Linked DNA regions of Homo sapiens: region 2 is linked to region 1. The links come from fine-mapping of genetic effects on gene expression. A gene starts in region 1. The other region holds a variant in brackets. All regions are shown on one strand. Distances are from middle to middle. Region 1 holds the start of IRAK2 (interleukin 1 receptor associated kinase 2). Region 2 overlaps IRAK2 (interleukin 1 receptor associated kinase 2).

The links. PIP is the estimated chance that this variant, and not a neighbour inherited with it, causes the effect.
Region 2: its variant is fine-mapped to the expression of IRAK2 in monocytes after LPS (Quach 2016, PIP 0.95).

The regions. Positions count from the first base shown.
Region 1 is chr3:10,156,943-10,172,734 of GRCh38, forward strand. It overlaps IRAK2 (interleukin 1 receptor associated kinase 2), which reads left to right and starts at 7,977. Exons shown (of 13, transcript NM_001570.4): 1 at 7,977-8,106. The coding sequence starts at 8,013. RefSeq lists silencers at 7,812-7,941, 8,142-8,291 and an enhancer at 12,045-12,555.
Region 2 is chr3:10,219,055-10,234,846 of GRCh38, forward strand. IRAK2 (interleukin 1 receptor associated kinase 2) reads left to right here. Exons shown (of 13, transcript NM_001570.4): 8 at 626-735; 9 at 3,582-3,777; 10 at 7,317-7,379; 11 at 15,405-15,605. Among named protein-coding and RNA genes, the nearest start is that of TATDN2, 22 kb to the right of the region's middle. RefSeq lists enhancers at 6,250-7,032, 7,208-7,257, 15,054-15,656 and a silencer at 7,371-7,665. The variant CA/C (reference allele first, on the strand shown) is at 7,891.

The sequences.
Region 1 (15,792 bases):
GTGCCACTGCACTCCAGCCTGGGCGATAGAGTAAGACTCCGTCTCAAAAAAAAAAAAAAAAAAGAAAACTCTGTCACCATCATGAGAACAGCCTGGGGAAAATTACCTCCCATGATTTGATTAAACCCTCCCATGATATATGGGGATTACAATTCAAGATGAGATCTGGGGGGGACACAGCCAAACCGTATCAGGGCTGTTCCAGCAGGTCTGGATTACCCTGGCGTGGAGCAACTCCAAGCAGTAGGGAGGATTTTGAGAAGGTCTAGTGTGCCTCTGGGGCAGCTGTTTTCCAAATACTCGTTTATACTTGGCAGCCTCCAGGATTTCCACCCCCCTGATAGATGCAGAAAGCAGATCCCTCTGGAACAGACTCCAGTATTGGAAATAAATGTACATGTATGGGAGATTGCCCAAATTAAGTATGGCACTCCTAAATAAGCCATTAAAAAGGATAGGGGGCCAGGCGCTGTGGCTCACACCTGCAATATCAGCGCTTTGGGAGGCTGAGGCTAGAGAATCACTGGAGGAGAGTTTGAGACCAGCCTTGGCAACATAGTGAGACCTCCGTCTCTACCAAAAAAAAAAAAAAAAAAAAGGTAAAAAGAATAGGATAGGATAGAGGTTTACTCATCTTTCTGAGAGAGAAAGAGTAGCCACTTTTTTTTTTTTTTAATTTTTTTCTTGAGAGAGAATCTCATTGTGTTGCTGAGGCTGGAGTGCAGTGGCGTTAGCTCACTGCAACCTCCACCTCCTGGGTTCAAGCAATTCTCCTGCCTCAGCCTCCTGAGTAGCTGGGATTACAGGTGCACGCCACCATGCCTGTCTAATTTTTAATATTTTTCGTAGAGACAGGGTTTCACCATGTTGGCCGGCTGGTCTCGAACTCCTGACTTCAAGTGATCTGCTCGCCTTGGCCTCACAAAGTGCTGGGATTACAGGCATGAGCCACCACACCTGGCTGAAATTTTTATTTTTTAAATTATAATAGAGACAGGGTCTTGTCATGTTGCCCAGGCTGCTCTTGAACACCTGGGCTCAGGCAGTCCTCCCGCCTTGGCCTCCCAAAGTGCTGAGATTATAGATAGGCATGCACCACCACACCTGGCCTTATGTTTGTTTTTCTTAAAATTTTTTTTGTTTGTTTCTGTTTTTTTGTTTGTGCTTTTTTTTGCCTTTTTTCTTTTTTTTTTTCTTTCTTTCTTTCTTTTTTTTTTTTTTTTTGAGACAGCGTCTCACTTTGTCACCCAGGCTGGAGTGCAGTGGCGCTATCTGGGCTCACTGCAAGCCCCACCTCCTGGATTCACGCCATTCTCCTGCTTCAGCCTCCCGAGTAGCTGGGACTACAGGCGCCCGCCACCACGCCCGGCTAATTTTTTTGTATTTTTTAGTAGAGACGGGGTTTCATCGTGTTAGCCAGGATGGTCTCGATCTCCTGACCTCGTGATCCGCCCGCCTCTGCCTCCCAAAGTGCTGGGATTACAGGCGTGAGCCACCGCGCCCGGCCTCCTTTTCTTTTTTTTTGAGACAGAGTGTTGCTCTTGTCGCCCAAGCTGGAGTACAATGGCAGGATCTTGGCTCACTGCAACCTCCGCCTCTGGGTTCAAGTGATTCTCCTACCTCAGCCTCCCGAGTAGCTGGGATTACAGGCATGCGCCACCACGCCCAGCTAATTTTGTATTTTTAGTAGAGATAGGATTTCTCCATGTTGGTCAGGCTGGTCTTGAACTCCTGATCTCAGGTGATTCGCCTGCCTCGGCCTCCCAAAATGCTGGGATTACAGGTGTGAGCCACTACACGCAGCCATTTTTTAACAGAGATGGGGTCTCACTATGTTGTCCAGGCTGGGCTCCTGGGCTCAGGCAGTCCTCTCTCCTTGGCCTTCCAAAGTGTTTGGATTACAGGAATGAGCCATGGCACCCAGCCCATCACAATTTTAGATGTTCATCTTTGCTCCAGAAAATCTAGTTTTAGGAATTTACCTTAAGAAAGAAAAAACAAGTGTGAATAGATGTATGTATATGAAGTTTGCTGCAGTATTATTTAGAATAGCATAATACTGGAAATAAAAGTATACTGATAGGAGTTTGGGCACATATAGTATGGTGTTCCTAAATAAGCCATTAAAAGGGAAATAGTACTATGCTCATATAATGACAGGAAAAGCTATTAATTGAAAAAAAAACAGAAAATTAAATGTTAAAAAAATTTTTTTTTCACCATAGTGTCTGCAAAAAAGAAAATATGTTTAAAAAATTGGCCAGTCACGGTGGTTCACGCCTGTAATCTCAGCACTTCGGAAGTCCGAGGTGGGCAGATCACGAGGTCAAGAGATCAAGACCATCCTGGCCAACGTGGTGAAACCCCGTCTCTACTAAAAATACAAAAAACTAGCCAGGTGTGGTGGCATGCGCCTGTAGTCCCAGCTACCTGGGAGGCTAAGGCAGGAGAATCACTTGAACCCGGTAGGCGGAGGTTGCAGTGAGCCGAGATTTCGCCACTGCACTCCAGCCTGGTGACAGAGTGAGACTCCTTCTCAAAAAAAAAAAAAAATCATTTTGTATAGGACTAAAAACATGTAAAAGGAGTATATACTCCAAACAATAATGGTGATTCCTCAGGGATGAGGTTATGGGAAGGTGTTTGTTTTCTCTTTCTTTCTGTCTTTGACAAATATCACATGCTATCAGAGAAACCAATAAAGATATTTTTGTTAAAAAAAAATATAGCCGGGCGCGGTGGCTCATGCCTGTAATCCCAGCACTTTGGGAGGCCGAGGTGGGTGGATCACCTGAGGTCAGGAGTTTGAGACCAGCCTGACCAACATGGAGAAACCTCGTATCTACTCAAAATACAAAATTAGCTGGGTGTGGTGGCACATGCCTGTAACCCCAGCTACTCAGGAGGCTGAGGCAGGAGAATTGCTTGAACCCAGGAGGCAGGGGTTGCGGTTAGCCAAGATCACACCAGTGCACTCCAGCCTGGGCAACAAGAGCAAAACTCCGTCTCAAAAAGAGAGAAAAAAAAAGAAAAATATATGCAAAGTGCATAGAGAAGCTTTATTATTCTCCTTTCATCAGTCTTCCCTCCTGCTCCAGCTTTTTTTTTTTTTTTTTTTTTTTTTTTGATATGGAGTCTCACTGTGTCCCCCAGTCTGGAGTGCAGTGGTATGATCTTGGCTCAGTGCAGTCTCCACCTCCCGGGTTCAAATGATTCTCCTGCCTCAGCCTCCCAAGTAGCTGGGATTACAGGTGCGTGCCATCACGCCCAGCGAATTTTTTTGTATTTTTAGTAGAAACGGGGTTCCGCCGTGTTGGTTGGGCTGGTCTCGAACTCCTGACCTCAAGTGATCCACCCACCTCGGTCTCCCAAAGTGCTGGGATTGCAGGCATGAGCCACCATGCTTGGCCTCTGCCCCAGCTTTCTGATATGACTGGTTCTCAACTGTGCCAGCACATATTAGAATTATCTGGGAAGCTTTAAAAAACAGTAGTGCCTGAGCCCCACTCCAGAATAATTGAATCTGTCTCCCTGGAGGTAGGGCTAGGCATTTATACTTTTTAAAAGCACCCCAGATGTTTCTACTGTGCAGCCAGGGTTGCAAACCACTGACTATAATTTCAAGGGAATTAAACTTGAACAGCTCAAAATGACGTAAGTGTGTAATTAATTACATTCAGCCTCAATAACTGTTTCTAACTGATCCTGGTGGGTGTTGGTCATGGAAAATAGCCAGAGGAAGAAATTAACTGCAAGATCAGAGGAAATTTCTTGTGGTGAGGCAGTATAACACAGCAGAAAGAGCATTTGCTTTGGGTCAGACTTGAGTTGCATCCTGTTGATGCGGGACAGGCAAGCCCCCAAATTGGGGTTTAGCCTGGGAGGGTTCTTAGCTTCACCCAGAAAGGAATTCCAGGGCCAGCCAGTGGTGTTAAATAGCACCTTTTATTGAAATAGCAGTGTGCAGCCGCAGCAGAGGTACTGCTCCTTGCAGGGTAGGGCTACTCCATAGGCAGTGTGCCCAGAGTAGTGGCTCAGAGGCAGTTCTACAGTCACATTTATACACACTTTTAATTATATGCAAATTAAGGGGCAGTTTATGCAGAACATTCTAGAAAGGGGCGGTGACTTCTTGGAGTCGCCATGGCAATGGTAAACTGACAAGGTACACTGGTGGCAGTGTCTTATGCGAGGTACTTCCCACCACACCTGTTTTAGCTAGTCCTCAATTTGGTCCGATGTCCCAGCCATTCCTTTCGAGTCGAGTGCTGCCCCCTACCTCACTGTCACTTGGCCAACTTGGCCCAGTTACAATTGACTTCAGCCTCAGTTTCTTCATCTGTAAAACAGAAACAATAAACCTTTGCAGGGTTGTATGGATTACAGATAATGTATGCTAAATGCCTGCTAGGTGAGTTGGTAGGTGAAGGGCAACCATTAGTAATAGCAAAGACCTTACTTTGAAGAACTTATTCTAAAGAGTGGTAACTGAGATGTGTCCCTGTGATGACCTGCTCAGGCCCAAAATGACTCAAGCTTCTCTGGAAGACAGAATCCTAGGACACAGATCCCAAGCCCTGAGGCTGGGGTGAGAAGGAATTGCGGGAAGGGCCTGAGGATGCAGCAGAGAGAGCAGTGGGGGCTCCTCTGCCTTCCAGGATTGACCAAGGCTGAATGTGAAACTTCCGTGGTCTTAAAGCCTCACCCCAGGGAAGAGGCCCTGTGGCACTGAGGGAGGAGCTCTACACACACGCTGCTTGCGGAAGAGAAGGAGAAGCAGGTAGGGGACTCTGCAAAAAGAGAAAAGGAGAAAAAGAAGAGGATCTTTATTCTCTTTTACCCCCGTGTGCCTGGGATGGAGATGCTTCTCCACCCAGCCTATGGCAAACAATCATTACAGTTCCCAAGTCCACCTTCAGCCACTGCTGAAAACACAGGACTTCACTTGAAAAGTAGTCTCAGAACACTGAAATATGTCCCACTTTCAACATCAAGGAGGACATAATAGTAATCCTTTACTGGGCTCAGCACTTCACAGTTGATCTTGAGCGTTTTGGAGTCCATTTAGGCTTCATAACAATCCTTCCAAGTGGCTGCAGCAGGAGATCCAGTTTCCAAAAGGGAAAACAGAACTGGCTCAAAGGACTAAGAGCCGGAGAGTGGCTGAACCAGGTCTCCAAACTTGATAGGACTCCAAGGCCAGTGGGTGCCTTTTCAAGACCACTAATGACAGCTACCATTTTTTGGGCACATTCTCTGTGCGAGGAAAGCCCTGTAGTAGGTGTTCTATATAGGCTACATAATTTGATTTATTCCACTCCCCTCACAACTCTAAGCAGTAGGAAGGAGCAGGCCCACTTTACAGATGCTGGAAACAAGGCTTGACGAATGAAATGAGTTGTCCAGAGTCACAAAGCCTGTTGGTGGCAGAACTGCAACTTGGCCCTAGGACTTCTCACTTTGATTTCAGCTTCCTCCTTTTGCAGCGCTACTCCATAGCTGACGGCCACAGCTATACAGTGGTACCTACTCTAGTTACTTATCTGCCCTTCGTGACCTCGCCTAACCTCTTGGAATCTATTTACTTCTGTGTAAAATGGGGATAATAATATCTATAGTATAGGCTTGTAAGAATGACATAAGATCATTTTTGCAAAGTACATTGTAGATACAGATAAATGTATCTGTATCTACAATATACTTTAGCCAGTGGTGATGGAGAGCCTGGGGTCAGAATACTTAGGTTCAAATGATTTTAGCCATATTATTTAACCTCTCTGTGCCTTAGTTTCCTTATTTGTAGAATGGGGCTATAACCATACCTACCTCAGAGGGTCATTGTAAGGAGTAAGTAAAGTAACCCAGGTGAAGGCTACACATAGTAAGTGCTCAATAAATACTAGCTATTTTATATATGTGTGTGTGTATTTTATATATATATATATATATATATATATATATATATATGTATACACACACTATAAATTCTGTTCCTTGTACCCTCTTTGTTTATTTAGAGACAGGGTCTCACTCTCACCCAGGCTGGAGTGCAGTGGTGCAATCTTGGCTCACTGCAATCTCCACCTCCTGGGCTCAAGTGATCCCCCTACCTTAGCCTCCCAAGTACCTGGGACTACAGGCACATGCCACCATGCCTGGCTAATTTTTGTAGAGACAGGGTCTTGCTCTGTTTCCCAGGCTGGTCTCGAATTCCTGGGCTCAAGCGATCTGCCTGCCTCTGCCTCCCAAAGTGCTGGGGTTATAGGTGGGAGCCGCCGCACCCAGCCCCTTATACCCTATTTAATAATCCAGTTTGTCCTGCAGTCCCCTGCACCATACTCTGCTTTTTTCCCAGTAATAGTATCATCTAAGATAATGCAATTGGCCACTTGCACTCCCTTTTACCACCCTCTACTTTTATTCTTTCTTTTCTTTCTTTTTTTTTTTTTTTTTTTCAGAGACAGGGTCTCATTCTGTCACTCAGGCTGCAGTGCAGTCATAGCTCACTGCAGCCTCAAACTCCTGGGTTCAAGAGATCCTACCACCTTAGCCTCCTGAGTAGCTGGGACTATAGGTGTACACTACCATGCTTGGCTCATTTTAAAATTTTTTGTAGAGGCCAGGCGTGGTGGCTCATGCCTGTAATCCTAGCACTTTGGGAGGCCGAGGCAGGCGGATCACGAGGTCAGGAGTTCAAGACCATCCTGGCCAACACAGTGAAACCCTGTCTCTACTAAAAATACAAAAATTAGCTGGGCGTGGTGGCGCGTGCCTGTAATCCCAGCTACTCGGGAGACTGAGGCAGGAGAATTGCTTGAACCGGGACCTGGGAGGCAGAGGCTGCAGTGAGCCAAGATTGCGCCACTGCACTCCAGCCTGGGCTACAGAGCAAGACTCCGTCTCAAAAAAAAAAAGTTTTTTGTAGAGATAAGATCTTCCTATGTTGCCCAGGCTTCTACTTTCATTCTCCAACATAGCTTATCTGCCTATTTTTATTGCTTGTTGTCTGTCTCCCTCCAGGACAAGGATTTTGTCCTTCTCTTCAGAGGTATTCCCAGCACCTACAACAGTGCCTGGCACATAGTAGCTGCACGATACATATTAGCTACTATAGTAAAGTCTACCTGACTACCCTATTTAATAGAATATTCCCCATGCTCAATCTGAATTCCTGATTCCCTTTAACCAACTTTTTTTCCTTTTTTTTTTTTTTTGCAATAGTGCTTATTACCTTTAAGACACTCTGTAACATACTATATTTATTATTTATTGTTAGTCTTTCTCTCCACACCTAGATTGTAAGTCTTATGAAAGCAAGGGCTTTTGTAGGCTTTTTTTTTTTTTTTTTTTTTTTTTTGAGACAGAGCCTCACTCTTCACCCAGGCTGGAGTACAAGGGCACAATCTGGGCTTACTGCAACCTCCGCCTCCAGGGTTCAAGCGATTCTTCTGCCTCAGCCTCCCAGGTAGCTGGGACTACAGGCGTGCGCCACCGTGCCCGGCTAATTTTTGTATTTTTAGTAGTGACGGGGTTTCACCATATTGGCCAGGCTAGTCTCGAACTCCTGACCTCGTGATCCGTCCGCCTCGGCCTCCCAAAGTACTGGGATTACAGGAGTGATCCACCGCGCCCGGCTGTAGGGTTTCTTATTCAGGTATTACCAACACCTAGGGAGTTGCCTGGCATACAGTAGGTAATTAATGGAGTATTTGATGAGCGCATGATGCATGGTGTAGTGCCGATGGAAGTGGGGTCAGAAGGCCTCCTGCCGCTGCGGCAGAATTCCCGTGTGGCCTTCTCCCACCAGGGCCTCAGTTTCCCCTCGCAGTTCCGATTCTCTGGCCGGCGCTGGGGTGGAGCCGGCGGGGCCGTCGTGCCGCCCGTGGCCGCTGGGGACGCTGGTGCCCTCCCGCCCCGCCCACTTCCCCGCCGGTCCGCCCCTGGCTAGAGAAGCCGCAGCCCGCAGTGTCCGACCCAGTCGTCCCGCGCCGGAGCCGGCCCCGTAGCGTGCCATGGCCTGCTACATCTACCAGCTGCCCTCCTGGGTGCTGGACGACCTGTGCCGCAACATGGACGCGCTCAGCGAGTGGGACTGGATGGAGTTCGGTGAGTGCGGCCCGGGGAGGGGAGGGGACCAGGGCGACCGGAGCCCCCAGCGATCCCGCCTGGAGCGGCCGCCAAGCTCCCTCGGGCACCCGGGTTCAGCGGGTCCCGATCCGAGGGCGTGCGAGCTGAGCCTCCTGGACCGGGTCCGCCGCGGACCTCGGCCTGTCACCTGAAGGTGCCGCGTGGTCTCTGAGGACGTCTGTCGACGAGCAGGGGCCGCCGCCACTGCGCTCTGAGTCCAGAGAACGGTGGGTACGGGGGCCCTCCTGTCAGCGCTGCTGGCTCGGTGACGTCCCCAGGTGGCCTCTCATCCAGCCCACAACAGCCTGCAAAGTGCGAGCCTCGACCCTGTAGGGACCCACGGTGCTGTCACTTCTTGGGGGGGTGTGTGTGTGTGTGTGTGTGGTGTGTTTAGTTTTAGTGTATATTAGAAGGATCTATGATTTAACATATATATATATATTGAAACGGAGTTTCGCTGTTGTTGCCCAGGCTGGAGTGCAATGGCACGGTCTCGGCTCACTGCAACCTCCACCTCTGGGATTCAAGCGATTTTCCTGCCTCGGCCTCCCGAGTAGCTGGGATTACAGGCGCCCGCTACCACCCTGGCTAATTTTTTGTATTTTCAGTAGAGACCGGGTTTCACCATGTTGGCCAGACTGGTCTTGAACTATTTTTTTTTTTTTTTTTTTTTTTTTTTAAGACGGAGTCTCACTCTGTCGCCCAGGCTGGAGTGCAGTGGCGCGATCTAGGCTCGTTGCAAGCTCCGCCTCCCGGGTTCACGCCATTCTCCTGCCTCAGCCTTCTGAGTAGCTGGGACTACAGGCGCCCGCCACCACGCCCGGCTAACTTTGTATTCTTAGTAGAGACGGGGTTTCACCGTGTTAGCCAGGATGGTCTGGATCTCCTGACCTTGTGATCCGCCCACCCTGGGCCTCCCAAAGTGCTGGGATTACAGGCATGAGCCACCGCGCCCGGCCTCCGGAACTCTTGATCTCAGGCGATCCACCTGCTTCGGCCTCCCAAAGTGCTGGGATTACAGGCGTGAGCCACTGTGCCCAGCCTATTTATCATATTTGTGATTAAATGTACTTTACCATTATAGTTTTAAAATCAGATATTTACTTTTAGTGTACATTGTTTTGATCACAGTATTTATGACTATCAACCTGTTTTGAGATCAGATGTGTCCTAATAGATTCAGTGTGTATAATGGGGCCTAAGCACAAGCACTTACTTTCACTCTATTGCAAGGTGCACAGTTCTAGATAATTCCGTGGGAAGGCACTCAGACAGCCTCCATATGTTTTGTTTGTTGGTGCCTGACGGATGACTGGCGGAGAGGGCCATGGACTCTGCGGGGAGGCCGCTTGCCTGTTGTCTCTGCTTTCCAGGTGGAGATCTGCATTCCAGGCTCTTGCTGTATGACTTTGGGCCAGTTTGTTAACCTCTCTGAGCCTCAGCTTCTGAATCTGTATGTAAACTGGAGATGATAATTATAGCTTCTTCATAAAGTTGTGAGGAATGAAAATACTGTATAAAAGCACTGACACCTAAGTGTTAAATATTCTTATAAGTCATAAGTTGTAATATTCTCTTTTCATTTTTATTTTTTTGAGACAGTCTCATTCTGTGGCCCAGGCTGGAATGCAGTGGCGAGATCTCGGCTCACTGCAGCTTCCGCCTCTTGGATTCAAGTGATTCTCTTGCCTCAGCCTCCCGAGTAGCTGGGATTACAGGCATGTGCCACCACGCCCACTAATTTTTATGTTTTTAGTAGAGATGGGGTTTCGCCATGTTGGCCAGGCTGGTCTCGAACTCCTGACCTCATGTGATTTGGCCGCTTTGGCCTCCCAAAGTGCTGGGATTACAGGCGTGAGCCACTGCTCCTGGACCTGGCTTCACTACTTTGAATGTTTCCTGGGCAGTGAACAAACTTTGTGTGAGACTCCCTCTCATTTTTTCCACATTGGCCCAGCCCTCAGTTACAAATGCCAGAACAACTTCTGTTTCTAGGAAATTCAATTAGAAGGCATACCTATGACTTAAAAAAAAAATAAAGCTTTACTGAGATATTCACATACCATACAATCCACCTGTTTCAGGAGTACAATTTAGTGGTATTTAGTATATTCACAGGGCTGTGTATCCATCTTCACAATCAATCTTAGAACATTTTAATCACCCGAAGAAGAAACTCTGTACCCGTTAACTTCCAATCCCCTCCTTCCATTTTCCTGAGTTTTAGACATTGCCTATTTTGGACATTTCATATAAATGGAATCATATAATATATAGTGCTCTGTGACTGACTTGTTTCAACTAACATGAGGTTCATCCATGTTGTAGCATGCGTCAATACTTAGTTTCTTTTTTTTTTTTTTGAGACGGAGTCTCGCTTTGTCACCCAGGCTGGAGTGCAGTGGCGCAATCTCGGCTCACTGCAAGCTCCACCTCCTGGGTTCATGCCATTCTCCTGCTTCAGCCTCCCTAGCAGCTTGGACTACAGGTGCCTGCCACCATGCCCGGCTAATTTTTTTGTATTTTTAGTAGAGATGGGGTTTCACTGTGTTAGCCAGGATGGTCTTGATCTCCTGACCGTGTAATCCACCTACCTCGGCTTCCCAAAGTGCTGGGATTACAGGCGTGAGCCACCGCGCCCAGCCAGTTTCTTTTTATTGTAGGATAATGTTCCATGGTATGGATATACTACATTTCATTCATTTATCAGTTGTTGGGCATTGGGTTCTTTTCACTTTTGGGCCATTGTGAATAGTGCTGCTGTGAACACTCACATACAAGATTTTGTGCAGTGGTGCAAATGTAGCTCACCGCAGCCCCAACTTCCTGGGCTCAAGCGATCTTCCTGTCTCCTGAGTAGCTGGACTACAGGTGTGCACTGCTGCACCCAGCTAACTTTTGTATTTTTTGTAGAGACAGGTTTCACCATGTTACTCAGGCTGATCTTGAACTCTGGAGCTCAAGCGATCTGCCCATCTCACCTTCCCAAATTGCTGGGATTACAGGTGTGAGCCACTGCATCTGGCTTTATGTTTAACTATTTGAGGAGCTACCAGATGTTTTCTAAAGTGGCTGAACCACCAGTGTATGAGGATGACCATTTCTCCACATCCTTGTCAACATGTGTTATTTTTTTCTTTTTTTAATTTTTTTTTTTTTGAGACAGAGTCTCGCTCTGTCGCTGAGGCTGGAGTGCAGTGGCATGATCTCGGCTCGCTGCAACCTTAGCCTCCTGGGTTCAAGCGATTCTTGTGCCTCAGCCTCCCAAGTAGCTGGGATTACAGGCATGCACCACCGTGCCTGACTAATTTTTGTATCTTCAGTAGAGACAGGGTTTCACCGTGTTGGCCAGGCTGGTCTCAAACTCCTAACCTCAGGTGATCTGCCCGCCTCGGCCTCCCAAAGTGCTGGGATTACAGGTGTGAGCACCATGTCCGGCCTTATTGTTGCTTTTTTGATGGTAGCCACCTGAGCCAGTGTGAAGTGGCATCTTACTGTGGTTTGATTTGCATTTCCCTAATGACTAATGCTGTGGAGCATCTTTTCCTGTGCTTGTTGGCCATTTGCACATCTTCTTTGGAGAATACCTCTGCGAGGCTCCCCACTGGGATGGATATGATCTGAACACCTTGCCAGGCATGTTGACTCTGACACATCTGCCCAGTGCTGGCCTCTCTGACCTCCTCTTCTTCCACACCCACTGTCACTCCCCTGCTCCAGCCACACTGACCTCCCTGGGCCAGACACAGGGTCTTTGCAGGTGCTGTTCCCTCTGCCTGGGACGTTCTTCCCCCTGTGTTACCTGGGGCTAGCTTTCTAGTCTATTAGTTTCCTCCTGTTGCAGTTATAGATTACTACAATATCAGGGGAACCAGCCCGCAGTATTTCAATGTAGGTTCTTTTCTATTTTCCCTAAGTGTCGGCCGGTCTGAGAAATAAAGAGTACAAAGAGAGAAATTTTACATCTAGGCCTCTGGGGGTGCTGTTACACATTGGTAGGACCGTGATGGTGACCCCGAGCCACAAAACCAGCGAGTTTTTATTAGGGATTTCAAAAGGGGAGGGGTGTACGAATAGGGAGTAGGTCCCAGAGATCACATTCTTCAAAGGGCAATAAAAGATCACAAGGCAAAGGTGAAATTAGAATTACTGGTGAAGGTCCATGTCCCACTGGGCACGCATTGTCTTGATAAACATCTTAACAGGAAACAGGGTTGGAGAGCAGACAACCCGTCTGACTAGAATTCACCAGGCTGGAATTTCCCAATCCTAGTAAGCCTGAGGGCACTGCAGGAGACCAGGGCATATTTCATCCCTTATCTCAACTGCATCAGACAGACACCCCCAGAGTGGCCATTTATAGACCTACCCCGGGAATGCGTTCCTTCCCCAGGGTTATCAATTATTAATATTCCTTGCTGGGAAAAGAATTCAGCGATATTTCTCCTACTCACACGTCCATCTATAGGCTCTCTGTGAGAAGAAAAATATGGCTCTATTCTGCCCGACCCCACAGGCAGTCAGACCTTATGGTTATCTTCCCTTGTTCCCTGAACATCACTGTTATTCTGTTCTTTTTCAGGGTGCCCTGATTTCATATTGTTTAAACACCCACGTTTTACAATCAGATTTCATATTTTTCAAACACACGTTTTACAAACAATTTATACAGTTAATGCAATCATCACAGGGTCCTGAGGTGACATACATCCTCAGCTTATGAAAATGATGGGATTAAGAGATTAAAGACAGGCATAGGAAATTATAAGAGTATAAATGTCCATAAAATCTTCACAATTTATGTTCAGAGATTGCAGTAAAGACAGACGTAAGAAATTATAAAAGTATTAATTTTGGGAACTGATAAATGTCCATGAAATCTTCACAAGTTGTATTCTTCTGCCGTGGCTTCAGCCGGTCCTGTTCGGGGCCCCTGACTTCCCACAACACTACAAAGTTGGTGGCCTGTAACACCTCAAGTTTATTATCTCAGCATTCTGGAGGTCAGAAGTCCTAACTCAGGGTGGCTCTAGGGAGGAGTCGGTCTCCTGGCCTTGACTGGCTTCCTGAGGCCTGCAGCATCCTGTGGCTTATGGCCCCTTCCTCCATCATCAAGGCCATGGGTGTGTATCATCACATCTGTCTCTGTGACTTCTGCTTCTACCATCACCTCATCTCTGAATCTGATGTTCTGGCCTCCCCCTTACAGGGACCCTGGTAATTACCTTGGCCAGACCCAGAGAATCCAGGATAATCTCATCTCAGAATCCTTGATTTAATCTAACCTGCAAAGTCCCTTTTGCTATGTAAGGTACCATATTCACAGGTCTCGGGGCTTAGGATGTGGATGTTTTCCAAGGGTATTATTCTGTCTGTCACAGTCCTTCAGGTAAGCTCCTGTGGCACCTCTTTGAAATCAAGAGGACTTTCCTGCCCCTGTTCCTCTCTAGCCCATCACCGTGTTTCATTTCCCTCATTCCGCTTCACAGCCTTTGATGTCCCCTCGTTCCTGAATTTTTTCCACCTGTCTCTCCCTATGGAATGGAAGCCCCGTGCGGGCAGGGGCCTTACCTGTCTAGTTTTTCACTGCTGTATTCCCAGAGCCTGGGACAGTGCCTGGCTAGAGGGCAGGTGCCAGAATGAATGATGAGCTGCCAGGCCTTGGTGTGGTGAGGATGCGGGCTGCCCACTCTTACCCATTGGAGCTGGCCTGGAGCCTTTGGTCAGCCCACTTCCTACACTGGATCAGAGCCAGCGGTGCCTCCGGCCCACTGCTCCTCGCCCAGTCCCAGTGCTCCAGTTCCCTCTTCAGCTGAATGAACGAGTGACTGTGATTGACCCTTCAGTCCTAAAAATTCTTGGCTTCCTGTGGGTCATTTTAGAAAGAAGACAGTCCCTCAGAGCTGATGGTGATACTGGGAGAGTGTAGTGAGAACGCTAAAGTGATTCAGAAGATCCCGCAGCCACAGACAGCCACGCTCTTTCAGATCCGACACTTGTTGGCAGATAATCTGGCCACGCCTAGTTCTTGTCTCCGTGATGGCAGCTGCCTCTGTTGGGCTTTGCCTGAGCCTGTGTAAAAAGGGTTTCCTACAGCTTCAGCCCCAGGTGTGTGCAGAGGGGCTCGGCGCAGGGGCTCTTCTGTGTGTGGCCGTTCCCCGTCTCGTTCACTCATGCGTGTGCCAGCCTTTGTGCACAGCCCTGCTTTGCCCTGCCCAGCTGTGTGACATCAGGCAGGTGACTATCTCTCTCTGAGCCTTTAGTTTCCTCATCCATGAAGCACCCTCACAGTGTTGCTGAGAGGCTTAGGAGACTCAGCTTATTGTAAAGGGTCAAGTTAGGGCTTTCCTCATCCCCCACCCAGGGAGGGGTGTGGGCATTCGATTCTAAGATGGGTCATTTCAGGAGGCTGTGCCATCCCTGCTGTGGAGGACTTTGAAGACAGGCAAGGTTTTCTACTGCCTCGGGTGAACTCCTGCAGGATTCAGGAACTCAAGAGTGATAGTCCCTGTACTGTTAATCATCAGGGATAAAAACATTTTCAGGCCAGGTGCAGTGGCTCACGCCTCTAATTTCAACACTTTGGGAGGCCTAGGTGGGAAAATTTCTTGAAGCCAAGAGTTTGAGACCAGCCTCGTGATCCGCCCGCCTCAGCCTCCCAAAGTGTTTGGATTACAGGCGTGAGCCACTGCACCCAGCCTTTTTTTTTTTTTTGAGACGGAGTCTCACTCTGTTGCCCAGGCTGGAGTCCAATGATGCAATCTCAGCTCACTGCAACCTCGGCCTCCTGGGTTCAAGTGATTCTCCTGCCTCAGCCTCCAGAGTAGCTGGGACTACAGGCGCCCGCCACCACACTCTGCTAGTTTTTGCATTTTCAGTAGAGATGGGCTGGGCGTAGTGGCTCACGGCTGTAATCTCAGCACTTTGGGAGGCCAAGGTGGGAGGACCACGAGGTCAGGAGTTCGAAACCAGCCTGGCCAACATGGTGAAACTCTGTCCCTACTAAAAATATGAAAATTGGCCAGGTGCGGTGGCTCATGCCTGTAATCCTAGCTCTTTGGGAGGCTGAGGTGGGTGGATCATGAGGTCAGGAGATTGAGACCATCCTGGCTAACACAGTGAAACCCCGTTTCTACTAAAAAAAAAAATTAGCCGGGCATGGTGGCAGGCGCCTGTAGTCCTAGCTACTCAGGAGGCTGAGGCAGGAGAATGGTGTGAACCTGGGAGGTGGAGCTTGCAGTGAGCAGAGATCGCACCACTGCACTCCAGCCTGGGCGACAGAGCGAGACTCCGTCTCAAAAAAACAAACAAACAAAAAATTAGCCAGGTGTGATGGCACTCGCCTGTAATCCCAGCTATTCGGGAGGCTGAGGCAGGAGAATTGCTTGAACCTGGGAGGTGGAGGTTGCAGTGAGCTGACATGTGCCATTGCACTCCAGCCTGGGCAACAAGAGTAAAACTCCGACTCAAAAAAAAAAAAAAAAAAAAGGCCGGGCGCGGTGGCTCATGCCTGTAATCCCAGCACTTTGGGAGGCCGAGGTGGGTGGATCACGAGGTCAGGAGTTTGAGCCCAGCCTGGCCAACATAGTGAAACCCCGTCTCTACCAAAAATACAAAAATTAGCTGGGCATGGTGGCACATGCCTGTAGTCCCAGCTACTCGGGA
Region 2 (15,792 bases), 62 kb after region 1:
GAGAGTGGTGGCACGTGCCTGTGATCCCAGCTATTCGGGAGTCTGAGGCGGGAGAGTCACTTCAGCCTGGGATTTTAAGGCTACAGTGAGCTATGATGCTGCACTCCAGTCTGGGTGACAGAGCAAGACCTGTCTCAAAACCAGCAAACACAAAACAATGAAAAAACTCACAGTATCATGCTGAGCCCTGTGACAGAGGACATGAAGGGTGGGAGGAGGATCAGGAGCCTGGGACCCTGCCATCAGGACTTCGTTTTTTTGTTTTTGTTTTTGTTTTTTTTTGAGATGGAGTCTCGCTCTGTCACCCAGGCTGCAGTGCAGTGGTGCAATCTCGGCTTACTGCAAGCTCTGCCTCCTGGGTTCACGCCATTCTCCTGCCTCAGCCTCCCAAATAGCTGGGACTACAGGCAGCCGCCACCAGGACCGGCTAATTTTTTGTATTTTTAGTAGAGATGGGGTTTCACCGTGTTAGCCAGGATGGTCTCGATCTCCTGAACTAGTGATCTGCCTGCCTGGGCCTCCCAGTGTGCTGGGATTACAGGTGTGAGCCACCGCACCTGGCTGCCATCAGGACTTTAAAAAGGTACATTGTGACTATTTGTCCTCCTGCTTTTCTTTCTCTTAGGGTGGCTCGGACCCCCTCCCCTGGCCCCAGCGTGTCAGCATCTGCTCAGGGCTGCTCTGTGCCGTCGAGTACCTGCATGGTCTGGAGATCATCCACAGCAACGTCAAGAGGTGAGAGAGGTGGGCTGGACCCTGCTGGGGCCTGGGCTGCAAGGGTGGAACTGGTGCCTATTCCTGGCTCACCTCCCGCTCCGCCACTCACCCCTGTCCTCTTTGTTTTTCTCTTCCTACCTCCTCTCCTCTGCCCTCCCCTGGATGTCTTTTTCTCTGTTATGCCCTCAAAAATGAGTGTTTCCGGGCTGTGCTCCAAGTCCAATTGCTCTCAGGATGAATTGCCTACCTGTCACATTTGTCTTTCTGAGCTGCTGTTTTCCCAACAAGCCCTCCACACCTTGCTGCGTCGCACTGTCCACTCAGCAGCTGGCCTGGACCTCATCCTCGAACTTTGGGCCATGTCTGCCAACCCCCTGGGATTTTGAGCTCCTCGTTCAGTGTCTTTTCTGAGACCTGTCCCCTTCTTGTGTAGCTGTTGGTGTTAGCATCTTGTCTGGAAGGCTCCTGCAGGTTAGGCCTGCACCCCTGCATGTCAGTGCCATGCACATGAGAGGGAGAGGTCCCCATCTGGAGACGGTTAGGATAGGGAGGGATTCCGAAGATACCAGAATATCTGGCAGAACTGGCTCCAGAGACACAGAACTCGTATTTCCCCAAAGTTCTCTTTCCATTTGACTTGTGGAAGTCCTTTCCTCTTTTCTCTCCCCCAATTTTTTTTTTGTTTTTTGAGACGGAGTTTCACGCTTGTCACCCAGGCTGAAATGCAGTGGTGCGATCTCAGCTCACTGCAACCTCCACCTCCCTGGTTCAAGCGATTCTCCTGCCTTAGCCTCCTGAGTAGCTGGGATTACAGGTGCTCGCCACCACACCCAGCTAATTTTTGTATTTTTAGTAGATAGGCTTTCACCATGTTGGCCAGGCTAGTGTCGAACTCCTGACCTCAGGTGATCCACCCGCCTTGGTCTCCTATAGTGCTGGGATTACAGGTGAGAGCCACCACCCCGGCTCTCTCCCCTAATTTTTATTTGATTGCATCAATAATTCTAATAGCAGGCAAGGAAATGAAAGGGTGAGAGAGGTCACCACTAACCTACCCCATGACTCATCAGCTGGCCTCTAGGTTTTGTTTCTTTTTTCACTTCCTGCCTATACAAATCCTTAGTCCTGAGGTAGCACCTGGGTACCAATTCACATCCTGTTTTTTACCCCTTCATTTAAACATAGTAAACATTTCGCTACATTGTATACCGTCATGTTTTTTAGTGTCTTAGTCTTCCCGTGAAGGAATTTGCCCATAATTTACTTAACCACTCCTGGCACACACACCCGTGCATTTGCGGGCGTGCACACACACACACGCTAAAAAAGTTTTTTTTTTGGCCGGGCGCGGTGGCTCACGCCTGTAATCCCAGCACTTTGGGTGGCCAAGGCGGGCAGATCACGAGGTCAAGAGATCGAGACCATCCTGGCTAACACGGTGAAACCTCGTCTCTACTAAAAATACCAAAAAAAAAAATTTTTTTTTTTTTTTTTTTTTTTGAGATGGAGTCGCGCTCTGTGGCCCAGGCTGGAGTGCAGTGGCACAATCTCTGTTCACTGCAAGCTCCGCCTCCCAGGTTCACGCCATTCTCCTGCCTCAGCCTCCAGAGTAGCTGGGACTACAGGCGCCTGCCACCATGCCCGGCTAACTTTTTGTATTTTTAGTAGAGATAGGGTTTCACTGTGTTAGCCATGATGGTCTCGATCTCCTGACCTCGTGATCCACCCACCTTGGCCTCCCAAAGTGCTGGGATTACAGGTGTGAGCCACCGCGCCTGGCCAAAAAAAATTTTTTTTTGAGACAGGGCCTTGCTCTTTTGCCCAGGCTGGAGTACAGTGGCGCAATCTCAGCTCACCGCAGCTTCCCACCTTAGCCTCCCAAGTAGCTGGGACCACAGGCACGCACCACCATGCCGTGCTGAATTTGTTTGTTTTAGTAGAGATGAGGTCTTGCCATGCTGCCCATGCTGGTCTCAAACTCCTGGGCTCAGGTGATCCTCCTGTCTCGGCCTCACAAAGTGTTGGGATTACAGGCATGAGTCACTGCACCTGGCCTGCACTATATATCTGTACACATGTGGCTTAGCTTTTTCCCATTTTGGAGTATGTTCTCAGTGTTTGCTCCTGGGGGTTAGATGACTAGATCAAATGATTTTTTTTGAGACAGTGTACCACTCTGTTGCCCAGGCTGGAGTGCACCTCTGCTTCCGGGTTCAAGCAATTCTCCTGCCTCAGCCTCCTGAGTAGCTGGGACTACAGGCGCACACCACCACGGCTGGTTAATTTTTGTATTTTTAGTAGAGATGGAGTTTCGGCATGCTGGCCAGGCTGGTCTTGAACTCCTGACCTCAGGTGATCTGCCCATCTCGGCCTCCCAAAGTGCTGGGATTACAGGCGTGAGCCACTGTGCCCGGCCAAGAGGGAATTTTTTTTTCTTTCTTTTTTTACATGATCTGGGCAGGTTTAGTCACAAAGGATGCTGGCCACTTAGACCTGAGTCAGCCAGGCCAGAGCTGGGGGTTGGAACAGTTGTGGAAGAGACTGAGTCTGCACAGCCTGTAGGCGTGGCAAGCTGAGGCTGATCAGGGTTGGCATCTGTGGGGATCAGGGAGGCTGCACTTTGGCCACATTCCTGGGGCAGCAAGACTAAGTCTGAACTCCATCTCCATTTGCTGGAGGGAGTGTGCTCCTGATGCCCTCTCTTCCCCAGTCAGGGCTGGCTCAGAAGCTCCATGCTGAGGGTCTTTAGAGACCTCAACTTGCAGGAGGTGAGGTTGCTATATTGTCTCCCCAAAGGGTCTCCATGGCAACTTGTTGTTATCCAGCTCAAAATGAGAAGGTTCCCTCTCCTTTCATTTCCACAGCTCTAATGTCTTGCTGGACCAAAATCTCACCCCCAAACTTGCTCACCCAATGGCTCATCTGTGTCCTGTCAACAAAAGGTCAAAATACACCATGATGAAGACTCACCTGCTCCGGACGTCAGCCGCGTATCTGCCAGAGGATTTCATCCGGGTGGGGCAGCTGACAAAGCGAGTGGACATCTTCAGCTGTGGAATAGTAAGAGTGTCCTGCTCTGCGTAGAGTGGGGCCCACCTTGATTTGTCCTTCCCACGGCTCCTTTGTAATCACAGGATACGGTAGAGGCACACAGACAGGTTCCATCAAAGTACAACAGGGGCTGACAAACTGTGGCCCACAGGCCACTTTGGCCTGTGGCGTATTTTGTATGGTCTGTGAGCTAAGGGTAGTTTTACATTTATAAAGGATTATATTTTTAAACACAAAGAATATGTGATAGAGACTGAACATGCTCCCCAAAAGCTCACATATTTACTGTGTGGCGTGTTACAGAAGAAATTTGCCAGCCCTTGAAGGAAAACCACTCATGAGTGTCCAGGTTCTAGTAGGCTCCAGATATCCTCTCCTGACTTCCGTAATTCCCATCCAGCCATCCACTTGTCCATCCAGTTGTCTATTTGTCCTTATTTGTTCATCGCTGTCCGATCATCCATCTACCCTTTAGCTGCCCATCCATTCAGCGACCACTGACCCACCCAGCATCCCACCCTACCACCACCACCATCCTTGTCTGCCATTATGTCGTGCCAGGCACTAGGAATATGAATGTAACAAAAACACAGTCCCTCCCCTCAGGAGCTCATGGTCTGCATGTAGCAGTCTCCAAAGTATATTTCTGTAGAACTCCAGTTCCTTCGGACCTCTAGGATTGATGTGTTAAAAGGGTTTGTGCCCTGACAGGCTTGGAAATATTGCATTAGGCAAAGTCAAGCAGGTTTCTTTACCACAAGATTAATTCAAGCTGGTTGAATGGTAGTGAGCCTTTAATCTGGTACTTGTGAATTCACCAGAGAGGGGTATGCAGTGTTTCCCAAGCTCATTTGACTATGGAACCTTGTGTTCTCAGAATATCTGTCCTTGTCAGTGTTCCATGGAACCCAGTCTGGGAAATGCTGGCTGAGAAGAGTAACAGTCAGGTTGGCTTCAGCCAAGTGCATACAGCTGCCCCTTGGGCCTCACCCTCTTTTCTTCTCTAGCCTTGAACTCTGTACTTCCTCTCTCTGACCACAGTCTCCTGTCTGTCTACCTCTGCTACCAGAACCGTGGCCCTGAGTCACCTCTGCCCTCAGCCAGAACCCCAGATTCTGCACCTCCGTGTCTCCCAGCTGGTTCCTCTGCCTCCCTCAGCCCCACTGCAAGTTGTTCAGTGAAGCTCAGCAGGGCTAGTCCAGGCTCCTTCTCCTTTAAGAACCAGGGGGATGGGCAGGGAGTGGTGGCACATGCCTAAAATCTCAGTACTTTGGGAGGCCGATGTGGGCAGATCACCTGAGGTCAGGAGTTCAAGACCAACCTGGCCAACATGGTGAAACCCCGGCTCTACTAAAAATACAAAAATTAGCTGAGTGTGGTGGCATGTGCCTGTAATCGCAGCTACCTGGGAGGCTGAGTCAGGAGAATCACTTGAACCTGGGAGGCAGAGGTTGCAGTAAGCCGAGATCGCGCCATTGCACTCCAGCCTGGGCAACAGAGCAAGATTCTGTCTCAAAAAAAAAAAAAAAGAAAAAAAAGAACCAGGGGGATAGAACCCCTAGGCCCGGCTCAGTTACTTTCAGCTGTGTGACTTACACCTAGCACTTCTGTCTCTGGGCCTCAGTTAAGCCTTCTGTAAGATGGGGCTAACGATACACATGGAGATGAATGGGATAATGTATATAAGCAGGTGAGCATGGCACCCTGCACCCTGCACCTACCAAGAATATTATGATGACTGTGGTTATTGTTATTCCCACCTTTACACCCTCCTTCTGATATCTGTTTACTCTTGACCTTCTAACTGGTGTGTTAGCGTCACAGATGACTTCCTCATCCATCCATTCACCCTCCCACCTATCCATCTATTCATCCACCCATGCACCCACCCTCCCACCCACATACCCATCCATCCATCCATCCATCCATCCATCCATCCATCCATCCATCCATCCATCTACCACCCATCCATCCATTCATTCATTGAATGCCTCCTGGCTCCTGCCACCCTTTTGCTCAGCCCTGCCTCTGGTTGACTGATAACGCTTTTGAACTTTGATTCCTCCTGTGGGGATCACAGTGCATTGCTCAGTGTTTTTTGGTGAGTGCTCAGTGACCTCTATAAAGGACTTGGCTCAGAGCCTGCTCTGTGAAAGGGGCACAGGAAGTCTTTGTTTATTCATTTCCCCTTGTTCTGTCCCTTCCTGGCAGGGACCTGTCAGGAGTCCCTTTTCAATTGGCTCCTGTCCCACTTGCAGCAGTGATGCCCTCTGCTGCCCTTTTCTGGTCACTGCCAGTCTGTTATTAATCCTGGGTGGTTTAAAACCTTTATCCTTTCCTTCCTCCAGGCTTGGAGGGATTCTTGGCTATAAATGTGACCCTATTCTGACTTGCTTTGAGAGATGCTGTGGGAGAGAGGTTCCACACTAAGTGTGGGGTCTTCACACCTTTAATATTCACAACTGCTAGTCCCCATTTAACAGATGAGGACACTGAGGCTCAGGTTTTAGTTACTTGCCTAAAGATCACCTGAGCATATAAGGAACAGAGTCAGAATTTGAACTCAGGCCTGACTGTAGAGCCCTTAGCCATCATAGCATTGTCTCTACTGAGAAACCCTGTTCAAAGCAGTTTCCTGTTTATGAAGACATATATCATGGTTTGCCAATTTTGTGGTGACTTACACGTATACAGGGTTGTGCTCCTTCTGCGAGTGGATGCGCTAATGAATAAATAATGTTAGTAAAGGCCTGTGAGTGAAACATGCTATGGATGCTGCAAGATTTGTCTAGAATAGATACCTGCCTGCATGCAGAGTCTTTCCTTCCCTGAGATTCACAGAGCAATGCCTGCTTGCCATAGCTGAAGGTTTTTTGGTGTTTTTTTTTTTTTTTGAGACGGAGTCTTGCTCTGTCGCCCAGGCTGGAGTGCAGTGGTGCGATCTCAGTTCACTGCAAGATCCACCTCCCAGGTTCACGCCATTCTCCTGCCTCAGCCTCCCAAGCACCTGGGACTACAGGCACCCGCCACCGCGCCTGGCTCATTTTTTTGTATCTTTAGTAGAGACGGGGTTTCGCTGTGTTAGCCAGGATGGTCTCGATCTCCTGACCACGTGATCCGCCCACCTCAGCCTCCCAAAGTGCTGGGATTACAGGCATGATCCACCGTGCCCAGCCAGCTGAAGGATTTTTAAATGAAACAATCTTTAAAAAATAGTGTATATATACGTGTGTGTGTATCTATATTTATCTATACCTATATATATCTTATGGTAATACATATAAACACACACACACATGAATTTTTGAAAACCATCTTCTCTGCCTGGCTATCAATTAATTACAACCTTCCACTGGCAGCTTGGTGGCATCTTTAATTGGAGGAGGTGTTTAGTGATATTCCCATGTTCCAGATTTTGGGCAGGTGTGTCTGCTGGCAATGGCAGAGCTGCACCTGGAGCTCAGAACTGAGAAGAGAAGACAGAATCTGCTGCCTGGCTGTGTGCACGAGCGTCTGAACCATGCTAACTCACGTTCTGTTCTCTCCAGGTGTTGGCCGAGGTCCTCACGGGCATCCCTGCAATGGATAACAACCGAAGCCCGGTTTACCTGGTAAGGGAACTTGTCACATCTGGCTGGGAGGTATATTTGGGCCTCACAGCTCTGTAGAGAGGGCAACGACCTCAATTCTAGCTAGTTTTACACATGCAAATGAGGCCCGGTACAAGGTTGCATTTGCATCCCCACAAAGCAGCTTTAACCTCCCATCCCCACCTGCCAGCCAACCATTGCTTTTTCATGATAATAGCATCTGGGGCTTGGTGCGGTGGCTCATGCCTGTGATCACAGCCTTTGGGAGACTGATGTGGGTGGATCATTTGAGACCAGGAGTTCAAGACCAGCCTGGCCAACATGGTGAAACCCTGTCTCTATTAAAAAAAAAGAAAAGAAAAAACTTACAAAAAACCCCCAACATTATCCAGGTGTGGTCGCATGTGCCTGTAATCCCAGCTACTCGGGAGGCTGAGGCAGGAGAATCACTTGAACCTGGGAGGCAGAGGTTGCAGTGAACCAAGATTATGCCACTGCACTCCAGCCTGGGTGACAGAGCGAGACTCCATCT[CA/C]AAAAAAAAAAAAAAAAAAAGATTTTGGAATGTTTATAGAAAGCACTTGTATAAAAGAGAAAGCACTTCTCTATATATCAGGCAATTCATTAGGGATTTTCCTCAAATTGATAAAAGTTAATTTCAGCCCTTTTAAACAAGTTTCTATAATAAAAACAATTTCCATTTTGTAGGCCAAAGATCTGATATACACAGTCATTTAAAAAATATAACAACCTGGCTGGGTGTGGTGGCTCACACCTCTAATCCCAGCACTTTGGAGGAGGCCAAGGCGGGCGGATCACTTGAGGCTGGGAGTTCGAGACCAGCCTGGGCAACATGGCGAAACCCTGTCTCTACTAAAAATACAAAAATTAGCCAAGCGTAGTGGCACACACCTGTAATCCCAGCTACTTGGGAGGCTGAGGCAGGAGAATCGCTTGAACCCAGGAGACAGAGGTTGCGGTGAGCCAAGATTGCACCACTGCACTCCAGCCTGGGTGACAGAGTGAGACCCTCTCTCAAAAAAGAATAAAAATATAACAACCTAGCCTGACTTTGTGTTAAATACTTTCCATACATTATCTACCTAAATCATCTCAATTTTTCCATGATAGAGTCATTATATTCATCTGCAGATGAGGAAAGCTGGCTCTGAGTTTGGCCTAGGATCTCAGTTGGAATTACCAAGTGTCAGAGCTGGAATTCTGAGTCAGATCTCCCTGAGCCGACATCATGAGTTTTTTTTTTGTTTTTGTTTTTGAGACGGAGTCTTGCTCTGTCGCCCAGGCTGCAGTGCAGTGGTGCAATCTCGGCTCACTACAAGCTCCACCTCCCGGGTTCATGCCATTCTTCTGCCTCAGCCTCCCGAGCAGCTGGGACTACAGGCGCCCACCACCACACCTGGCTAATTTTTTTGTATTTTTAGTAGAGATGGGGTTTCACTGTGTTAGCCAGGATGGTCTCAATCTCCTGACCTCGTGATCCGCCCGCCTCGGCCTCCCAAAGTGCTGGGATTACAGGATCTTGAGTTCTTAACCACAGCAGTCTCCTGCTTGTTTCTTGTGACAGTCCAACCATACGAATTCAGTATTATCATTCCCATTTACAGCTGAGAAAACTGAGGGCAAGCTGAAGTGACTTGTCTCACGCCCCTCAGTGAGACCAGTGGTGGAAGTGGGGTTTAAATTGAACCCAAGGCTTTTGCAGAGTTTCAAATCTCATCCAAACTCTAGTCTTCCTCATCAGTTTGAGAGGGGGCACCTTTTCCTACTGGGTATTGAGGCCATTGGAACAGACAGATTATTATTTTATTTATTTATTTATTTCTGGTGACTGGGCCCCAGAAGCATCCCCTGGGCTCTGGGGTAGGGAGGCTGAAGGCCTCGCTACTCCATGCAGAAAGTCACGACATGTTCCTTTGATGAACTCTGTGAGTTCCACCCCTTTTGGGCAGTCAATCCCATATGCTGCAGAGAGGTCTGTCTGGGCAGCTCAGATGTGGTTTGGGGCTGTTTGGGGGCAGTTTCTCATCTCCTGACTATTTTCTTGAGATGGATTTCCCAGCAGTCCTCTGGGGCTCCCCGGACAAGTGTCACAGTGGAAGGAGGCTTTTGAGGCACTGACAGGAAGTTGTCTAGAATTATTTTTTTGCTAATGATTTCTAAAAATGTGGAAAATAACAATTTTTTAAAATGTAGTTTCTTTCTCTTATTCTAGACTCTTGTATGGTCTCTTATCATGTTCTGTTGTGGTAGGTGCAATCCAATGGTTAATCAAGATTTGAGTCAGGGAGGAAAGCTTGCTGATTTCCTGTGGCCCAGGGTAGGAGGAAGCAGGCCTCCTCCAGGCTTGGGAAAGTGTTAGTTGCCACAGTGTTTCCTGAGGGCATTTGGTGGTTTCCACCTAAATTGAAAATATGAGTACCCTCTGACACGGCAGTTCCATTTGTGCCTAGAGAAACATGCACACATGTGAGGAGAGGCAGATGAACAAGGATATTTGTAGTGGCATTTTTTTTTTTTTCGAGACAGAGTCTCGCTCTGTTGCCCAGGCTGGAGTGCAGTGGGCGTGATCTTGGCTCACTGCAACCTCCACCCCCCGGGTTCAAGAGATTCTCCTGCCTCAGCCTCCTGAGTAGCTGGGACTACAGGTGCGCATCACCACACCCGGCTAATTTTTGTATTTTTTTTAGTAGTGACAGGGTTTTGCCATGTTGGCCAGGCTGGTCTTGAACTCCTGACATCACTCAGGTGATCTGCCCACCTTGACCTCCCAAAGTGTTGGGATTACAGGAGTGAGCCACTGCGCCTGGCCAAATTTAATTTAATTTGATTTAGAGATAGGGAGGGGTCTTGCCCTGTCACCCAGGCCAGAGTGCAGTGGCATGATTGTAGCTCACTGCAGCCTCGAATGCCTGGGCTCAAGCGATCTTCCCATCTTGGCCTCCCAAATTGTGAGGATTACAGGTGTGAGCCATGGCGCCCAGCCTGTATGAGTTTTGACAAATGTATACAGTCATGTAACCACCACCACAATCAAGATACGGAATATTTTTGTCACCCCAGAAAATTCCCTCCACTTACAGGTCCTGGCAATTACTCATCTAATTTCTGTCCACATAGCTCTATCTTCTTTAGAGGGTCATATCAATGGGCCCATGGCAGATGCACCCATTTGTTTCTGTCCCCCTTCATGTAGCATGGTGCTTAGATTCATCCATGTTGTTGACGTGTCAGTAATTCATTCCTTTTCATTGCTGAAGAGTATTCCATTGTATGGATAGATGACTGTTTATCCATTTACCAGTTGCTGGACATTTGGGTTATTTCCAGGTTTTGGCAATTCTGAATAAAGCCAACACAAACATTCTTATTTTAAAAAAATGAAAAAGAGGCCGGGCACAGTGGCTCACGGCTGTAATCGCGGCACTTTGGGAGGCTGAGGTGGGTGGATCACTTGAGTTCAGGAGTTCAAGACCAGCCTGGGCAACATGGTGAAACCCCGTCTCTACTAAAAACACAAAATTAGCCCTGTGTGGTGGCGAGTGCCTGTAATCCCAGCTACTCAGGAGGCTGAAGCAGGAGAATCGCTTGAACCTGGGAGGCAGAGTACAGTGAGTCGAGATTGTGCCACAGCACTCCAGCCTGGGCAACAGAGTGAGACTCTGTCTCAAAAAAATAAAAAAGTAAATTGAAAAAGACATGTATGTTCTGACAGGGACATATCTCCAAGTGAACAAAGCAAATTCAGAATAGTATATAGTATGATCACATTTTTGCTAAAAATAGATGGATGAATGAATGAAAACATTGTATCACATATTTTCTTCTCTATAAATTGAGGATAATAGTAGTACCCCCCCCCACCGACAAGGTATGTTTGTTTGTTATCATTTTTGGAGATAGGGTCTCCTATCTCCTATCTTCTTTGTCACGAAGGCTGGAGGAGTGCAGTGGCATGATCATAGCTCACTGTCACCTCGAACTCCTGGGCTCAAGGGATCCTCCCACCTTAGCCTCCCGGGTAGCTGGGATTATAGGCATGAGCCACTGTGCCTGGCATCTGACAGGTTTATTGAAGGTTAAATAATATGTGAGATGCCTAAAATAGTAACTAGAACATAATAAACAATATATGTTAACTATTAGTATTATCATTATTATTTGAGATAAGGTCTCTGCCACCCTGGCTAGTATGTAGTGGTGCAATCATGGCTCACTGTAACCTTGTACCCCTGGCCTCAAGTGATCCCCTGCTTTAGCCTCCCAAGTAATTGGGACCACAGGCACGTGCCGCCACTCCTAGCTAATTTTTATTTTTATTTTATTTATTTATTTTTATTTTGAGACAGAGTCTTGCTCTGTCGCCCAGGCTGGAGTACAGTGGTGCAATCTCCGCTCACTGCAGCCTCTGCCTCCTGGCTTCAATTGATTCTCCTGCCTCAGTCTCCCAAGTAGCTGGGATTACAGGCATGGACCAACATGCCCAGCTAATTTTTGTATTTTTAATAGAGACAGGGTTTCACCATGTTGGCCAGGCTGGTCTTGAACTCCTGACCTCAAGTGATCCACCTGCCTCGGCGGCCTCCCAAGTACCTGGGACCACAGGCATGTGCCCTCACGCCCAGCTAATTTTTAATTTGTTATTTGTAGAGATGGGGTCTTGTTACGTTGCCCAGGCTGATATTGCTATTATTTTAACAGCTTTTAGGATACTGTTATAATTATTATATAAGTAAATATAAAACCAAAATAATTATAGCTGTATAGCAGAAAATAATATAATCCAAACTATTAGCAGGAGTTACCTTTGGAGAGTAGAAATGAAAGGTAAACTTTTGTCCCCAAATTTTAACCACTTATGTTTAATTTTAATTTTTTTTTGAAATGGAGTCTCCCTCTGTGGCCCAGGCTGGAGTACAGTGGTGTGCTTTTGGCTTACCACAACCTCTGTCTCCCAGGTTCAAGCAATTCTCCTGCCTCAGCTTCCCATGTAGCTGGGATCACAGGTGTGTGCCACCATGGCCCAGATAATTTTTGTATTTTTAATAGAGATGGGGTTTTGCCATGTTGCCCAGGCTGGTCTCGAACTCCTGAGCCCAAGTGATCCTCCTGCCTTGGCCTCCCAAAGTGTTGGGATTACAGGTGTGAGCCACCGTGCCCAGCCAAAAGTTGCTTTTTAAGGGTGGTTTGTTTGAAACTAGACCCCAAAAATGTCCATATATTACTTTGGTTATGTTTGTTTTTTTCATTTTTAAAAAAAAATTTTATGTGGAGATGGGATGTCACTTTGTTGCCCAGGCGAGTTTCGAGCTCCTGGGCTTAAGCATTCGCCTGCCTCAACCTCCCAAAGTGCTGACATTACAGGTGTGAACCACCACGCCCGGGCATGGTTATGTTTCTTAAGACTCTTATTCTTGGCCGGGCACGGTGGCTCAAGCCTGTAATCCCAGCACTTTGGGAGGCTGAGGCAGGCGGATCACAAGGTCAGGAGATCGAGACCATCCTGGCTAACATGGTGAAACCCCGTCTCTACTAAAAATACAAAAAAATTAGCCGGGCATGGTGGCGGGTGCCTGTAGTCCCAGCTACTCGGGAGGCTGAGGCAGGAGAATGGCATGAACCCAGGAGGCGGAGCTTGCAGTGAGCCGAGATCGTGCCACTGCACTACAGCCTGGGCGACAGAGCGAGACTCCGTCTCAACAACAACAACAAAAAGACTCTTATTCTCTCACAACCTCTCCCGCAATGCCCTTTTTCATTTTGGATGTCGTTGGATTTTTGCATAGACTAGGTCATTTGCCCTATGTAGACAGACTGTCTCACATTCTGGGTTTTGCTCATTACATCCTGTGGTCTCCTTCCCTTGTTTCTCTATTCCTCATATTTCCTATATTTGGCAGTTAGCACTTGTGACTTGTTTAGAGTCATGGTCATTGCCTTTGTCAAGAACACTTCCTGGAGGCGCTGTGAGCCTCCCATTGCTTCACTACACGGGGCGTAGCCTGTTGTCCTACTTTTAGTGCTAAGACCGATCAGTGTGTTAAGGTTTTAGTGCTAAGATTGATCAGTGGTTTCAGGTGGAGCTGCCGACTCCTCCATGGTGAAGTTCCCTCGACATCCTTTCATCGCGTGTTCTCAGTCCCCCAACCCCTGTTTAAACACTAGGTGTCTTCTGTAGTTTTTTTGATTATCGTCATAGTCTTTGCATCAAGATACATAGCAATGATGGCAGGTTTCCATTTGGGGCAAATTGTGAGACCCTGCCTCTAGAAAAGAAGAAAATAATACACTTCTACTGTTCTTGATTATCAGCTTTAAACACTAGTACACTTTAAAAAAAAAATAAACATTTAGGCTGGGTGCAGTGGCTCACACCTATAATCTGAGCACTTTGAGATGCCAAGACAGGAGGATTAGTTGAGCCCAGGAGTTCAAGACCAGCCTGGGCAACATAATGAGACTCCATCTCTACAAAAAATTTAAAAATTAGCCAAGTACAGTAGCATGTGCCTATAGTCCCAGCTACTTGGGAGGCTGAGGTGGGAGGATCGATTGAATCGAGGAGGTTGAGACTGTAGTGAGCTGTGATTATATCACTGTGCCCGGCCTATTTTTATTTTTATTTCTTATTTATATTTTGAGACGGAGTCTCACTCTGTCGCCCAGGCTGGAATGCAGTGGCGCAATCTTGGCTCACTGAAGCCTCTCCCTCCCCAGTTCAAGCAATTCTCCTACCTCAGCCTCCCGAGTACCTGGGACTATAGGCACGCACCGCCATGCCCGGCTAATTTTTTGTATTTTTTAGTAGCGACGAGGTTTCACCGTGTCAGCCAGGCTGGTCTCGAACTCCTGACCTCGAGTGATCTGCCAGTCTCGGCCTCGCAAAGTGCTGGGATTACAGGCATGAGGCACCGCACCTGGCCTACAATACATGTTTTTACAATATTTAGTATGTTTGTAACATTCATATATGCTAATCATATATACCATATTACTCATGAAATATACAATATAATTTATATTAAATATGCTTACATATTTGTATAAAATTATTATATAGCATATGTTCTATTGTATGCATAGTTCAGATTGCTGCATTTTATGTGGTACAAAATATAAAATATATGTAAATACAAAATGTATAAGAAGTATAGACATAATATTTTCTTTATAGTGGCTCTCCTGTTATGTATATAGGTCAGAATCCTACATTTGAAATGTTTGTATCATAAGAGATTGTCCATGTAGTTAATAAGATTAAATTATTAAGTGCTTATCATGTAGTAAGTGCCATATAAATGGTAGCTATTATTACTATTAGTTATTATCACTAAAAGACTATTGAATGTTCCGTGTCAGATGTCACTCTCTGTGCTTTAGGTGCACTGTTTCATTGAATGGTTGTGTTAGTCCTAGGTGTAGGTATTTTATTATTTTTTTGAGACAGAATCTCGCTGTCACCTAGGCTGGAGTGCAGTGGCGTGATCTCAGCTCATTGCAGCCTCCGCCCCCCACCTCCCCCACCATAGGTTCAAGCAATTCCTCTGCCTCAGCCGCCCTAGTAGCTGTGATTACAGGCGTGCACTACCAAGCCCAGCTAATTTTTATATTTCTAGTAGAGACGGGGTTTCGCCCTGTTGGCCAGGCTGGCTCGAACTCCTGACCTCAAGTGATCCACTCGCTTCTGCCTCCCAAAGTGCTAAGATTACAGGCTTGAGCCACTGCGCCCGGCCCTGGTGTAGGTATTTTTGTTGTTCCCATTTTCCTGATGAACCAACCGAGGCCTAGAAAAATTAAGGCCCCACGTTTGTGGCATGAGTTCACTATGGAGTGCCCTGTGCATGTAGGAAATCGAATCCTTCTCCATTTCTTGGGGGTTTTACTTCTTTCTGGAATCCTTGCATTTATTCTTACGATGTCCGGTCGGTTTTCTGAGCATTTTTTGCAGCTCTGGAGGTGAGTGGGGCGCGTGCGTTGGCTCTCGCAGCTCTGCAGCTCACGCAAGGGCGTTTCTACCCTTCTTCCCACAGAAGGACTTACTCCTCAGTGATATTCCAAGCAGCACCGCCTCGCTCTGCTCCAGGAAGACGGGCGTGGAGAACGTGATGGCAAAGGAGATCTGCCAGAAGTACCTGGAGAAGGGCGCAGGGAGGCTTCCGGAGGACTGCGCCGAGGCCCTGGCCACGGCTGCCTGCCTGTGCCTGCGGAGGCGTAACACCAGCCTGCAGGAGGTGAGCCTCGCCCGCAGCGGCCTCGCTGCCTGGGCCACGCGTGGGTCCACCTCATCGGGGACGGCCCCTTCGCAGAGGCCTGGTGCACAAACCAGGGTTGTGCTTGCTTGCAAGCCGCAGAACCTCCTAGAGCTCCCATCAGCCAAAGGGCGGTGTAGGGATGGATAGTGCGGAGCCCGAGGACGGG